Linked DNA regions of Homo sapiens: all the other regions are linked to region 1. The links come from fine-mapping of genetic effects on gene expression. A gene starts in region 1. Each other region holds a variant in brackets. All regions are shown on one strand. Distances are between the middles of the regions.

Region 1 (4,238 bases):
AGGCACGTGCCATCATGCCCGGCTAATTTTGTATTTTTAGTAGAGATGGGGTTTCACCATGTTGGCCAGGCTGGTCTCGAACTCCTGACCTCAGGTGATCCGCTCACCTCAGCCTGCCAAAGTGCTGGGATTACAGGTGTGAGCCATCGTGCCCAGCCAATGTTTCTTGATTTAATATAGTTATTAGAATATAAACTCCATGAGAGAGGGAGTGACTTCTGGTCCACCATGGTATCTCCAGCCCCTGTATTGACATTGGCATAGAGTAGGCTCAGATTAACCATTTATTTGAATTAATTAATATATAAATACACATATTTCTTTAGTCATTTACTTAAATCAGTGCTTTTGAAGGGGGATGTCTGTGTCTTTTGGCAATTTCTGTTTTTGGTTTTCACAGTGATGGCAAAGGTGGTTCCTGGCACTTATGGAAGAAGGGATGCTATATATCTTGTAATGCGTGTGGACAGTCCCATATAACATAGTCCTATAAAGTGATATGACTTTTTTTTTTTTGAGACGGAGTTTCGCTCTTGTTGCCCAGGCTAGAGTGCAATGGCATGATCTCAGCTCACCACAACCTCTGCCTGCCGGGTTCAAGCGATTCTTCTGCTTTAGCCGCCTGAGTAGCTGGGATTACAGGCATGCACCCCCATGTCTGGCTACTTTTTGTATTTTTAGGAGAGACGGGGGTTTCTTCATGTTGGTCATGCTGGTCTCGAACTCTCGACCTCAGTGATCCGCCCGCCTCGGCCTCCCAAAGTGCTGGGATTACAGGCGTGAGCCACCACGCCTGGCCTGTGATACGACTTTCAAATGACCTGCCAGACTCTCATGCAGATGAAAAGTCTTTTTATAATTATCCAAGCCTAGAAGAAACTTTAAACATAGGAACAGAAAGTATTTCTGTGCCCTTAAACACAAACTAAATGTCCGGGAATGCCACCAGCATGTCAATAGAGGGGATGCTTGTGTTTGGTTTCATTGAAGCTTTACCAAAATGTGCTCATCTTTTCAGAAAATCCCATCACCCATGGATACTGCTTGCATTTCTAGTTCCTGACGATTCTACCTCTAGGTCAACGGTATCCTGAAAACTTCTCAAATCTTTATTGTATTTGGACCCAGACATTTACCTATTGGACCACCTATTATTTTATTTTAACTTATTTTATGTCACCTTCATTTCACAATTTGGCATACCATTTAATTTTTTTTTTTTTGAGAGGGAGTCTCACTCTGTTGCCCAGGCTGGATGGAGTGCAGTGGCACGATCTTGGCTCACCGCGACCTCCGCCTCCCGGGTTCAAGCTATTCTCCTGCTCAGCCTCCCGAGTAGCTAGGACTACAGGCGCATGCCACCACGCCCGGCTAATGTTTTGTATTTTTAGTAGAGACGGGGTTTCACCGCGTTAGCCAGGATGGTCTCGATCTCCTGACCTCCATGATCCATCCGCCTCGGCCTCCCAAAGTGCTGGGATTACAGGCGTGAGCCACTGCACCCAGCCCCATACCATTTAATTTTAAACCTCATGCGTGTGTGCAGGTTAAATGGCTCCTAGGTTCCATTCCCGGGTGATGGGTGGGAGGGTGTTAAGATTTATTTGTTATAGAAAGGGGCCCTGGGGTCTCCCGCAGCCGCGAGCTGGGCGGTCCTCCCGGCGCCAGGGGTCGCTGTAGCGCCGCGCGGCCGCGCCGGGTCGCTCTCGCGTGGCCGCCCCGCCTCGGGCCCCCGGGCCGAGTGGGCGGGCACGACTGCGCCCAGGTCGCGAGGCGCCCTTCGACCAGCAGCGCCCGGGGCGGGCGGGTATAAATGGAGCGGTGGCTCCCTCGGCCGCCTCTCTCCGCCCCGGGTCGCTGCCGCCTCCGCCGCTTTCGGGCTTCGCAGCCTGAGGAAAAAAAGAGAAAAAGATAAAAAAAATCTGAAAACGCTTCAAAATCCTGAAAAAAAAAAAGGAAAAGAAAAAACGAATCCTCGGAGAACCCGCGGGGAAGTCACTTTCGTACGCTTCCGGCCTGCCCCGCGCCCGCCGCCGCAGCGCTTGGCGTCCGTCGGTCTCCGTCCGTCGGTCCGGGGGTGAGCCGCCCGCCCGGCCCGCCGTGCCCTCCCCCCGCTCGGGCCCCGAGCCCCGCGCCCCGCGCCTGCCCCGGCGCACCACGTGTCCGTGCTGCCCTTCGCCGCCCGCCCGGGGCTCGCCGAGTCGGCGCCCACAAAGATTTGGTTTCCCTCTGCCCCGGCGGTTGTAATCTTAAACCGCCGGAGCCCGAGGCCTATATTTATAGAGAAACGCGTGTCCCCGAGGCCGCCGTGGGCAGCGTCCGGTCGCCTCTTAAAGGATTTTTACCCTTCGGAAGGGGATTCCCCGTTTAATTTTTTTCCTACTTTGATTTTTTGAAATTTGGAGCTTCGCACCAGGACCGCGGAGAAGTGCAAAGTCGCGGGGAGGGCCGTATTGTGCGGAGAGCCTTTTGTCTGCGGTGCTGCGGCCGTGGGAGCCGGCCCCCGCCTCCCGTTTCCGTCCCGTCTCCAAGCCCGCCGACTCCAGCTCGTCCTCGCCGCGCCGGTGCCACCTGTGAGCCGCGGCGCGGGCCCGGGCTCCGAAGGCGCCCCTTTGTCCTGCGGCGGGCCCGATAAGAAGTCCTCCTGGCGGGGCTCGGGGTGGTGGGGGGCGGGGAGATGAACGCTGCGGCCAGCAGCTACCCCATGGCCTCCCTGTACGTGGGCGACCTGCATTCGGACGTCACCGAGGCCATGCTGTACGAAAAGTTCAGCCCCGCGGGGCCTGTGCTGTCCATCCGGGTCTGCCGCGATATGATCACCCGCCGCTCCCTGGGCTATGCCTACGTCAACTTCCAGCAGCCGGCCGACGGTGAGTAGAAGCTGTGCCCACACGTGCGTGGGAGCCCGGAGGACCCCGGGAGTCGTCTTCTGGCAGGGCCCTCCTGCCGAGGAGGGCGGCATCACGACAGCATGTTGCCACCGAAGCTGGGAGCAGGGTGCGGAGATTGAGAACGCGGACCTGGCATCAGATGACTCGAGTTTCAATCTTGTTTCTACCACTTGCTAACTGGGTGACCTTGGGCTACTTATTAGTGTTGCTGGTAGTGGGGTTGGAAACCAAGGAGACTGTAAAACAGGATTAGAGTGAAGCCACTGGCATTCCACTGCGTGTGGTCCTTGTCAGTGGGGCTGGGCTGTTAGAGATCCTTGCTTGTGCCCCTCACAGGCTGGCCAAAAAGGCGGGACGTTTGAAACACAATTCCCCGCGAAAGTTTTACATTGTAAAGCTCCTGCCCGCTCCGCCACCTTTACTAACCTTGACTACCTGATGTTGTGCTGATAAAGGATCAGTCAGGGCAGGCAGGAAGCAGGGGGAAGGTTTCTGTGCGTTAAACTTTCGCAGAGACTTAGGTTAGTGCCACAAAAGCTGCGTGTGCCAGGCCACCTCCTTGGTCTGTGTGTTTGCCACTGGAGTGGAGAAGTGCTTTACTCTGGACAAATGGTATCCAGGCTCTGTGCTGTAGAGTGTCGTGGAGGTAGTTTAGGGAAGCGTCACTTGAAAATCTGGTGTCATTTGTCACCTCAGCTGTAACAGTGCTTTGCACTAGTCAGAGCCCTTTTATTTCATCTAATCTGAAGAAAATGGGACTCCTGAGAAGGAGAACGAATGCAAAAAGTTGGAAGCCAAGTTAGGACTCCCAGCACAGTGCTCTGCCACCTCAGATTGTGGCCTTAGCGTGGAGCATGGAGAGAGGTATGCTGCAGGCGTGGCAGGAGGGAGGCCAGAGGAAACCTGATCAGAGGCTGCACGTGACTCCAGATTAAAAGGGAACAACTGCAGAGATCATTACTGGGAGAAACAAGCCATTCTATGGCAAAGCATCTCCAGGTCCCTAGTTTTGGGGTCCCCCCTTTGTTTTCTGTCTGAGGCCCAGAGTTACTACCTGCCCAGGTTGCGGCTGAGACCAGAGAATTGGACATGTTGAGAGGGACTAGGTATTGCTACTGTCAATCCAGTGTGCTCCAAGCTGAGTTCTGTCCATGGCCATAGGAGCGCAAAGGTAGCTGAGTGTGGTCTTTTTAAGGGATAATGTACCACATTAGCTGTTGTCTGCCTTACTGACTTTTGAACAAAAGTCGTGTCACTTAGAGATAGCAGAAGCTATTGGTCAGTGTGTCTGCCAACACATACTTCTGCAGGACTTCTCCCTGCTATAAATAAGTGCAGCCAGATTTG
Region 2 (4,238 bases), 93 kb after region 1:
CCATTACAGGGTTACCAGGAGGCAAATTTTATCTACATAAATATTCACATGAAAATAGTAACTTACAAAAAGAAAAAAAATAAGGCAGCTTCATAACACAATTATTCTTTTACACTTTTAACAATATAACTTCTCCCGTTCAGAATAAATATACACCCAATGTATGGAGCAGGATTCAAAGTGGATAGTGGCTTGGGGGTGCTTAGACAGTGTTATCGCTTGGGACCTGGAGTCCTGGGGGAGGCAGTGGTGGTCTTCTTAGACATGGTTGGGATTTTGGAAGGTTTGTTTAGCCCTCTCCTGGAGTTGCCTTGGCCCCCTGCAGCGCTGCTTTCTGAAGTGTCGGAACAAGCAGACTGCGTCTCTAAGAGGTCAAAGTCAGAAGCGTCACTTCCTCGCCGGCTGCTGGCTCGACTCCCGGCTCGACTCCCAGCCCGACTCCCAGGGCGACTGGCAGACTTTTTAGGGTCTGGAATTCAAGAATAAAACAGCAGACTTAATAGAGATGGCATGGGGTGGAAGAACAAGTGAGCAGAAGCTAGGGTTCTGATCCTGTGTGATCTTAAGCAAATCTCACAGCCTTTCTGCACCCCAGTTTCCTCATCCATACAGAAGTTGCTGAAGCCTTTTCTGGCTTTGTGATTCTACTTGAGAAGCTGCCTCCTGGGGATTAGAAAGCCACTCTATCAGCAGCACTGTCACCTTCCATGGCCCCAAAGTGGAGGCAAGCAAGGTTGCTCAACCACCTCAGCACAGGTGGGTGAGCCTGCCAGCCGGGCTAATCCATGGGCAGGATGGATAGAGGCAAAATGAGGGGAAGCAGCCAGCCAGGAAATGAAGGAAGATTCCTAGGTTCCCATGAGGAACAGTAGCAGGAGAACAGATGTGATCTTCCCCTGCCTTTCTTGGTTCAACAGCAGCCATAGTAAGTATGACGTGTTGGAAAAATTACTAGCAAGCTGCTCATCCCAACACTGGACTGGTGTCTGAGGAAGACCCACATTTCCTTTTACATTCTCTCAAATGTGATCATTTCTGATGAGAACGCATGGCCCAGCTTTGGCTGTGGAAGCATCTCATCTCAGAAGGAAAGCTTAAAGCTAGCTGTAATGACAGAAAAAGTAAAGGTCACTTGAGCATCTGCAGGTCTGTCTTTCTGGGCATCACACTAAGTGCCACTCTCATTACCCGCTCCTTGGGAGCAGTGAAACATTCCACATAGGCTGTTGTTTCCAAATTCTCAGCCTGGCTTGTAGGTCACGGGGCAGGTACTTACCTGCCCGATTAGTTTTGGCACCTGTGGAGGCCGGGGAAGAACTATTGCTGGTATCACCAGCAAGGGATGTCCGACTAGAATGAAAAGTTGGTGTTGGTCGTTTCAACTTGCTACCTGATGATGGGATAACCTTAAAAAAAATAATAAAAAGGTCACATTTTACTTGGTAAAATCTTTGCCAGAAATTCAACTTTAAAAGGTCTCCTTACACCTCCTTATATTTGCTTAGTTGAAAAGCAAATTAAAAGTCCAGGAAAACAAAGATTTCTCTTAAAGTATCCTAGGTCATATATTTTGATAATTCCCAAAATCAAAGTTTTAT[G/A]TTCCAAATAAAAATTTCAAAATGTCTTCAAATACCTTTTGTTTTACTAATTTCCCCTAGAAATGAAAAAAAAAAAATCCTCAGTAAGAATACAATAGTTACAACAAACAATTATGGTGAATGAGTAAAGGAAAAAGAAATTCAAATAATACTAGGTATCAAGATTTTGGGGTTAAAAATTTGAAATGAGTTTTAGCCCACCTATTTGATATGGAGATTCAAGTATTACTCCAATCTTTTTTTATTTTATTTTTTTGAGACGGAGTCTCGCTCTGTCACCCAGGCTGGAGTGCAGTGGTGCAATCTCGGATCACCGCAAGCTCTGCCTCCTGGGTTCACACCATTCTCCTGCCTCAGCCTCCGAAGTAGCTGGGACTACAGGCACCCGCCACCACGTCCAGCTAATTTTTTTGTATTTTTTAGTGGAGACGGGGTTTCACCGTGTTAGCCAGGATGGTCTCGATCTCCTGACCTTGTGATCTGCCCACCTCAGCCTCCCAAAGTGCTAGGATTACAGGTGTGAGCCACCGCACCTGGCCCCAATCTCTTAACACTAAGTAGGTGCAGTAACTTTAGTAAGATCTTTTAGTCATTATCCTTACTGGTAAAATGCAGATAAAATTACTTAACTTGTGGATCAAATAAACTATGAGAAGCACACGACTGTGGGACTGAGACATCAGGAACAAGTCTGTGCATGAAGAACCAGGAGACCTGGGTTTGAGTCTGGGTTCCAGGACTGATTGAAATTAACACCTGTGTCTTTGCTTCTCTCTTGGGAAATCAGGGATTAAATCCTGCCTCTTTGACTTCATTTCTACCACACTCCTCATCAGTCCATCCCAGCCACACTAGCTTCCTTGCTGTTCCACCAATGGCCCAGTGAGGGTCCACCAGTCTTGTCCCCTTGCTGTTCATTTTGCCTGGACTGTTGTTGCACAATCACCACACCCCAAGCCTACCCCAGATACACGTGTGGCTCACCCCCTCATTCCCTGCAGGGGCTCTATTGAAAGGATGACCTTAGTAGAGAGGTCTTGTCTCACTACTCAGAACACTGCTTGTACACTTCTATTCTCTCCCCTGCTTCCTGTGTTCTGCACAGCACAGAAGAGGAACTCAATAAAAACTTGCATGAATAAATGATGAATAGAAGCATTTCCCAAACTGGAAAAGAGCTACATATTATTATCACTGCTACCAATAGGTGCTATGTTTCCTATTTGAGTGATTTTTTTTGGTTTTTTAGATAGTAGGCTTAACTGGAGGAAAAAGAGTATTTTAAATGTGTGGGTGTTTTTTTTTTTTTTTTTTTTTTTTTTGAGACAGAGTCTTGCTCCATCACCCAGACTGGAGCACAGTGGCATACTTCATGGCTCATTGCAGCCTCGACCTCCCAGGCTCAAGCAATCCTCCCACCTCAGCCTCCCTAGTGGCTGGCTTATTTTTGTATTTTTTGTAGAGACAGGGTTTCTCCATGTTGCCCAGGCTGGTCTTGAACTCCTGGGCTCAAGTGATCTGCCCACCTCGGCCTCACAAAGTGTTGGGATTACAGGGGTGAGCCACCATGTCCAGCCTTAAATCTGTGTGGGGTTTTTTTTTTTTTTTTTTTTTTTTGAGGCAGTCTCACTCTGTTGCCCAGGCTGGAGTGCAGTGGCACAATCTTGGCTCACTGCAACCTCTGCCTCCCAGGTTCAAGTGATCTCCTGCCTCAGCCTCCCATGTAGCTGGGACAACAGGCGCCTGCCACCACACCCAGCTAATTCTGTATTTTTAGTAGAGATGGGGTTTTGCCATGTTGACCAGGCTGATCCTTAAATGTTTTAAACATCCATTATTTGACCTTGTCTCTACTTTGCTTTTTAAAAAATGAAAAAACAAACAAACAAACAAACAAAAAAACCCCCAAAACATTACTTATGCCACATGCTACAGCATGCCATTCTAATTTTTCTTTGAAATCAATTATGTAAATTGTTTTCCAGGACCTTTAAGACGTTTATGCAAACAGAAGAGAAAAGCAATCCATCTCATTGTTTGCTGTACTTCTTAAATTTATAAAGAAAAAGCATAAGCGATAGAAAGTGATTAACACTCAAGCACAAAATTTCCTGGCCACATAGGAGGAAGAACACCAGTTTCAGAAGCTAAGGTTCCTGCGCACTGCTGCTGGAAGACCACAGCTAGAACCCGGGCTAGAATTCCAAGTCAGGAGATGGCCTGGCTACAGAACACCAATAAGTAAGGAAAGATGAAGCCTCAAAATGAAATGAAACAGAAAATAAAACCTTAAGACAGAACAAAAGCCCTGATTTATCAGAACTGTATGAGAATTTGTACATCATTAAACATCTAAAATTTAAAATAGAACTGAGATTTTTATGAAACTGGAGCCATTAAGGAAAGAAGAAAAGCAAGATAAGCAGGGTGAGTCTAGTAGTTTAGTGGCAGTAGGTCCCCAGATCATATTCTAAACCAGATATATTTCTGAACTGGAGTTTTAGCTTGAAGTGAAATGAACCTCAAAACAGCAGCTCATTCATAGCCATTGACTTCTTGTGCATCCCTTGTTTCCCTGGCTAAGGCTTTCCAAGACTGAAGGCAACACTGTCTTGAGGCACAAGAATCCAATGTTTCTTG
Region 3 (4,238 bases), 37 kb before region 1:
GCTGAGGCAAGAGAATGGTGTGAACCCGGGTGGTGGAGCTTGCAGTGAGCCGAGATTGCGCCACTGCAGTCCAGCCTGGGGGACAGATGGACACTCTGTCTCAAAAAAAAAAAAAAAAAAAAAGAGAGAAAAAGAAAAGAGTCATTCAATCACGGTGACTTTGAGTGGGGGAACCTACTCTACTTCTGCACCCGGCTGGCTCTCCTGGTTTCCATGGTGACTCTGTGATTACTTGGCCTCTCTCCTCACAGCCCCCTCCCCTTTCCCACATTATTCTCCAAAAAAATGGTCCTGTTTCATGCCTCATGTTGAATACGGAGGGTTCTGGTAGTCTCCAGGATAGTATTATTTTTAAAAATCTGTGTTATCGAGGTGTAATTTATGTACAACAAAATTCGCCAATGTTAAATGTAAAATTTGCTGAGTCATGCCAGTGTAAACACTCAGGCAATCACCTCATAATTGTGATATAGAGCATTTCTATCACCCAGAAACTCCCTCTAAACCCTTTGCAGCCAATCACCTCCTCCAGTCTCAAGCATTGATCTGGTTTCTGTGTTTCTGCCACCATGGTTGTTTTTTGTTTTTGTTTTTGTTTTTGCTTTGAGACGGAGTCTTACTCTATCACCCAGGCTAGAGTGCAGTGGCACAATCTTGGCTCACTACAACCTCCACCTCCTGGGTTCAAGCCATTCCCCTGCCTCAGCCTCCCCAGTAGCTGGGATTACAGGCACACACCACCATGCCCAGCTAATTTTAGTATTTTTAGTAGAGACAGGGTTTTACCATGTTAGCCAGGCTGGTCTCGAACTCCTGACCTTGTGATCCGCCCACCTCGGCCTCCTAAAGTGCTGGGATCACAGGCGTGAGCCACCACGCCTGGCCCACCATGGTTTTGTCTATGTATAAATGGAATTAGACAGCAGGGAAACTTTTGAGTCTGGCTTTCTTCGCTTAGTGTAATGCTTTAGAAATTCATCAAGTTCTGTGAATGAGTTGCTCTTTCTTTTCGTTGCTGTGTAGTATTCCATTGTACAGATAGATCCCAATTTGTTTATCCATTCACCTTTTGATGCATATTTGGGTTGAGTCCTGAGGATGGTTTTCAGTCACAGAAAAGACTATTTGGAAGTTTATTTCTGGAGTAAACAATTAGTTTCTATTTATTAAAGTTACTAGTTCAAAACACTACTAATTCTTTCTTAACCTTAAGATTCAACCTATTGGCCAGGCGTGGTGGCTCACACCTGTAATCCCAGCAATTTAGGCAGCCGAGACAGGAAGATTACTTGAGGCTAGGAGCTGGAGACCAGTATGGGCAACATATCAAGACCCCATGTCTACAAAAAATTAAAATTTAATAATAATAAAATATTTAAAAAGTATAAATAAAATTCAGCTTACAAACCTTGTTTGAAAATCTAGATTTTAGCAAATGCTTCTAAGGGGCTTTTTACAACTTTATATCTTCAAACGTAAATGAATAGGTTTGATTTTCTTTTTCAGTATCTCAGTGTGGAAGAAAAGTTAAATATTAAATTTGAACTCAACTGAACATGGACACAAACAATGGTCACCAAGTCCCTGAACAGGTTGTGTGAGCCCCTTGAGGCGTTCATCCAGCACTGTTTCGGAGGAATCTCTATTTCAATCTATTCCTATACATTAGTTATTGAAAAACAACACACAATCGCAAAAACAAGTTGACCTTTTTGTGTTCCTTGAGACCGATAATGAAGGGCCCTCGTGACCGGACCTCATGCCAAACAACTCGTTACAAAAAGAGCTAGGGTCCCAGCTGCGCTGAAGCTTCATGAGACCTCTCCTCATCTGTGCATGGATGAGTGGCCGACTCTGGAGCCCAGGCTGTTGCTTCCCAGTCTGGTGGTGAATCCTCCATAGTCTGGTGAGTGTAAATATGTGTATATCTCTTTTCCCTTCTCCCCTTCCCATTGCAATTTGCTTATTATGTCATTTACTTATATCAATTTGCTTATTATATTAATTTCCTTATTATATCATTTGCTTATTATATCTGCATTGCCATTTACGTGGGATAAAGCTTGTTTACCCTTAAAGGTATTGTGTGTGTGCCTTTTCTTCTCCCCTCACGCAGCTCCCGCGGCTCCCACACAG[G/A]ACGCTCAGTTATCTGTATAAACAAAACCTTCCTGAAGATTTAAATCATTCTTATACATCAAGTAAATCCAAGTTATAAATAGGATGAATCTTAAGTTCTCTCAAAAATCTGTTTATCTAAAAAACTAGGGCTGGGCACTGTGACTCACACTTGTAATCCCAGGACTTTGGGAGGCTGAGGCTGATTGCCTGAGCCCAGGAGTTTGAGAACAGCCTGGGCAATATAGTGAGACCTCATCTCCACAAAAAATTTAAAAATTAGCCAGACATGGTTGCGCACGCCTGTGATCCTATCTACTCAGGAGGCTGAGGTGGGAGGATCACTTGAGCCGGGGAGGCAGAGGTTTCAGTGAGCTGAGATCCAGCTACTGCATTCCAGCCTGGGAAACAGAGTGAGACCCTGTCTCAAAAACAAAAACAGAAAACAAAACAAAAACCCTAAATGTATCTAGATTATTTCTTTGAACAGAAATATTAATGCTAAGGTTTTTTGTCTTTGTTTTTTATGAGAACGGGGTCTCACTCTGTAGCCCAGTCTGGAGTGCAGTAATGCAATCTCATCTCACTGCAACCTCTGCCTCCCGGGTTCAAGCGATTCTTCTGCCTCAGCCTCCTCAGTAACTGGGATTACAGGCACGCAGCACCACACCTGGGTAATTTTTGTATTTTTAGTAGAGACGTGGCTTCACCATGTTCGTCAGGCTGGTCTCGAACTCCTGACCACAAGAGTTCCGCCTGCCTCGGCCTCCCAAAGTGCTGCGATTACAGGCGTGAACCACCATGCCCGGCCAATGCTAAGATTTAAATTTTTGGTTTAGCATGCTAGTCTTAGTTCTAAATCTTCCTGAGGTTATGTTACATAAGTATCCTCATCAAGGACACTCTAAGGAAGAAAGTTCCATCACCGGTAACAGAGGTTAATTAATTTTTCATCTTCTAAGGTTACAGATGTGTTCCACAAAGAAAAAAAAGGCCGGGCACGGTGGCTCACGCCTGTAATCCCAGCACTTTGGGAGGCTGAGGTGGGCGGATCACGAGGTCAGGAGATCGCGACCATCCTGGCTAACACGGTGAAACACTGTCTCTACTAAAAATACAAAAAATTAGTCGGGCGTGGTGGTGGGCGCCTGTAGTCCCAGCTACTGGGGAGGCTGAGGCAGGAGAATGGCGTGAACCCGGGAGGCGGAGCTTGCAGTGAGCCCAGATGGCACCACTGCACTCCAGCCTGGGTGACAGTGCGAGACTCTGTCTCAAACAACAACAACAACAACAACAACAACAACAAAACAAAACAGACCAAAAAAAACCACAGTCCTCCCAGTTAATTGAGATCATGTGCCCACTAAGAAAGACACCTGTGGGGCTGCAGTGGCCAGCCATGCCCTCAGCACGGCACAAATTCTGTTTGTGCCACTGAATCTCTCCCCAAAGGGCTGCTGAGAGGCCTGTTTCTATAGCTGGGCTGGGAATGAGACAGAGCCCCTTGCAGGCTTTAGAGCTCTTCCTGTTGATTCAGGACTAAAAGCTTTTCATTCAACTTGTGATGTCAGAAAGCTGGGTGACTGACCGCCACTGCACAGTGACTTGATGGCCCCTTTGAAGCACAGGCCCACAAGGATTTGCAGGTAAATTGCAAATGGCCAATATCCAGTACAAACAGCCACCCACTGTGCCTGTCCCCCTGGCAGCCACTGCTTTTGGATTACTGCCCCTTCACCCTTGGTAATGCAGGCACACGGGCACGCAGTGCGGGACTGGTGGGCAACTCTGCCCACGGCCAGGCACAGGATCCACTAGGCAAAGCCAGCTGGGCTTCTGAGTCAGGTGGGGACTTGGAGAACTTTTATGTCTAGCTGGAGGATTGTATATGCACCAATCAGCACTCTGTGTCTAGCTGGGGGTTTGTGGATGCACCAGTCACCACTCTGTATCTAGCTAATCTGGTGGGGACTTGGAGAACTTTTATGTCTAGCTAGAGGATTGTAAATGCACCAATCAGCACTCTGTGTCTAGCTAAAAGATTGTAAATGCACCAATCAGCACTCTGAGTCTAGCTAAAGGTTTGTAACGCACCAATCAGTGCTCTGTGTCTAGCTAATCTA

Direction of the effects. Positions count from the first base shown, and alleles are read on the strand shown. Sizes are in standard deviations (SD) of each study's normalised expression.
In carriers of allele A in region 2, the expression in transverse colon of the gene that starts at base 1,839 in region 1 tends to be lower than with G alone (small effect, 0.25 SD a copy in GTEx).
In carriers of allele G in region 3, the expression in unexposed skin of the gene that starts at base 1,839 in region 1 tends to be higher than with A alone (small effect, 0.33 SD a copy in GTEx).

What was found. PIP is the estimated chance that this variant, and not a neighbour inherited with it, causes the effect.
Region 2: its variant is the best candidate, but not a certain one, in a credible set for the expression of PABPC4 in transverse colon (GTEx, PIP 0.80).
Region 3: its variant is the best candidate, but not a certain one, in a credible set for the expression of PABPC4 in unexposed skin (GTEx, PIP 0.86).

Annotation. Positions count from the first base shown.
Region 1 is chr1:39,574,391-39,578,628 of GRCh38, reverse strand. PABPC4 (poly(A) binding protein cytoplasmic 4) reads left to right here and starts at 1,839. Exons shown (of 16, transcript NM_001135653.2): 1 at 1,839-2,870. The coding sequence starts at 2,678. RefSeq lists a silencer at 1,585-1,894 and enhancers at 2,395-2,464, 2,965-3,014, 3,035-3,154.
Region 2 is chr1:39,481,769-39,486,006 of GRCh38, reverse strand. It overlaps MACF1 (microtubule actin crosslinking factor 1), which reads right to left. Exons shown (of 101, transcript NM_001394062.1): 100 at 1,277-1,406; 101 at 1-469. The coding sequence ends at 213. Among named protein-coding and RNA genes, the nearest start is that of BMP8A, 7.7 kb to the left of the region's middle. The variant G/A (reference allele first, on the strand shown) is at 1,599.
Region 3 is chr1:39,611,473-39,615,710 of GRCh38, reverse strand. No RefSeq gene overlaps it. Among named protein-coding and RNA genes, the nearest start is that of HEYL, 26 kb to the left of the region's middle. RefSeq lists enhancers at 2,053-2,222, 3,762-3,931. The variant G/A (reference allele first, on the strand shown) is at 2,137.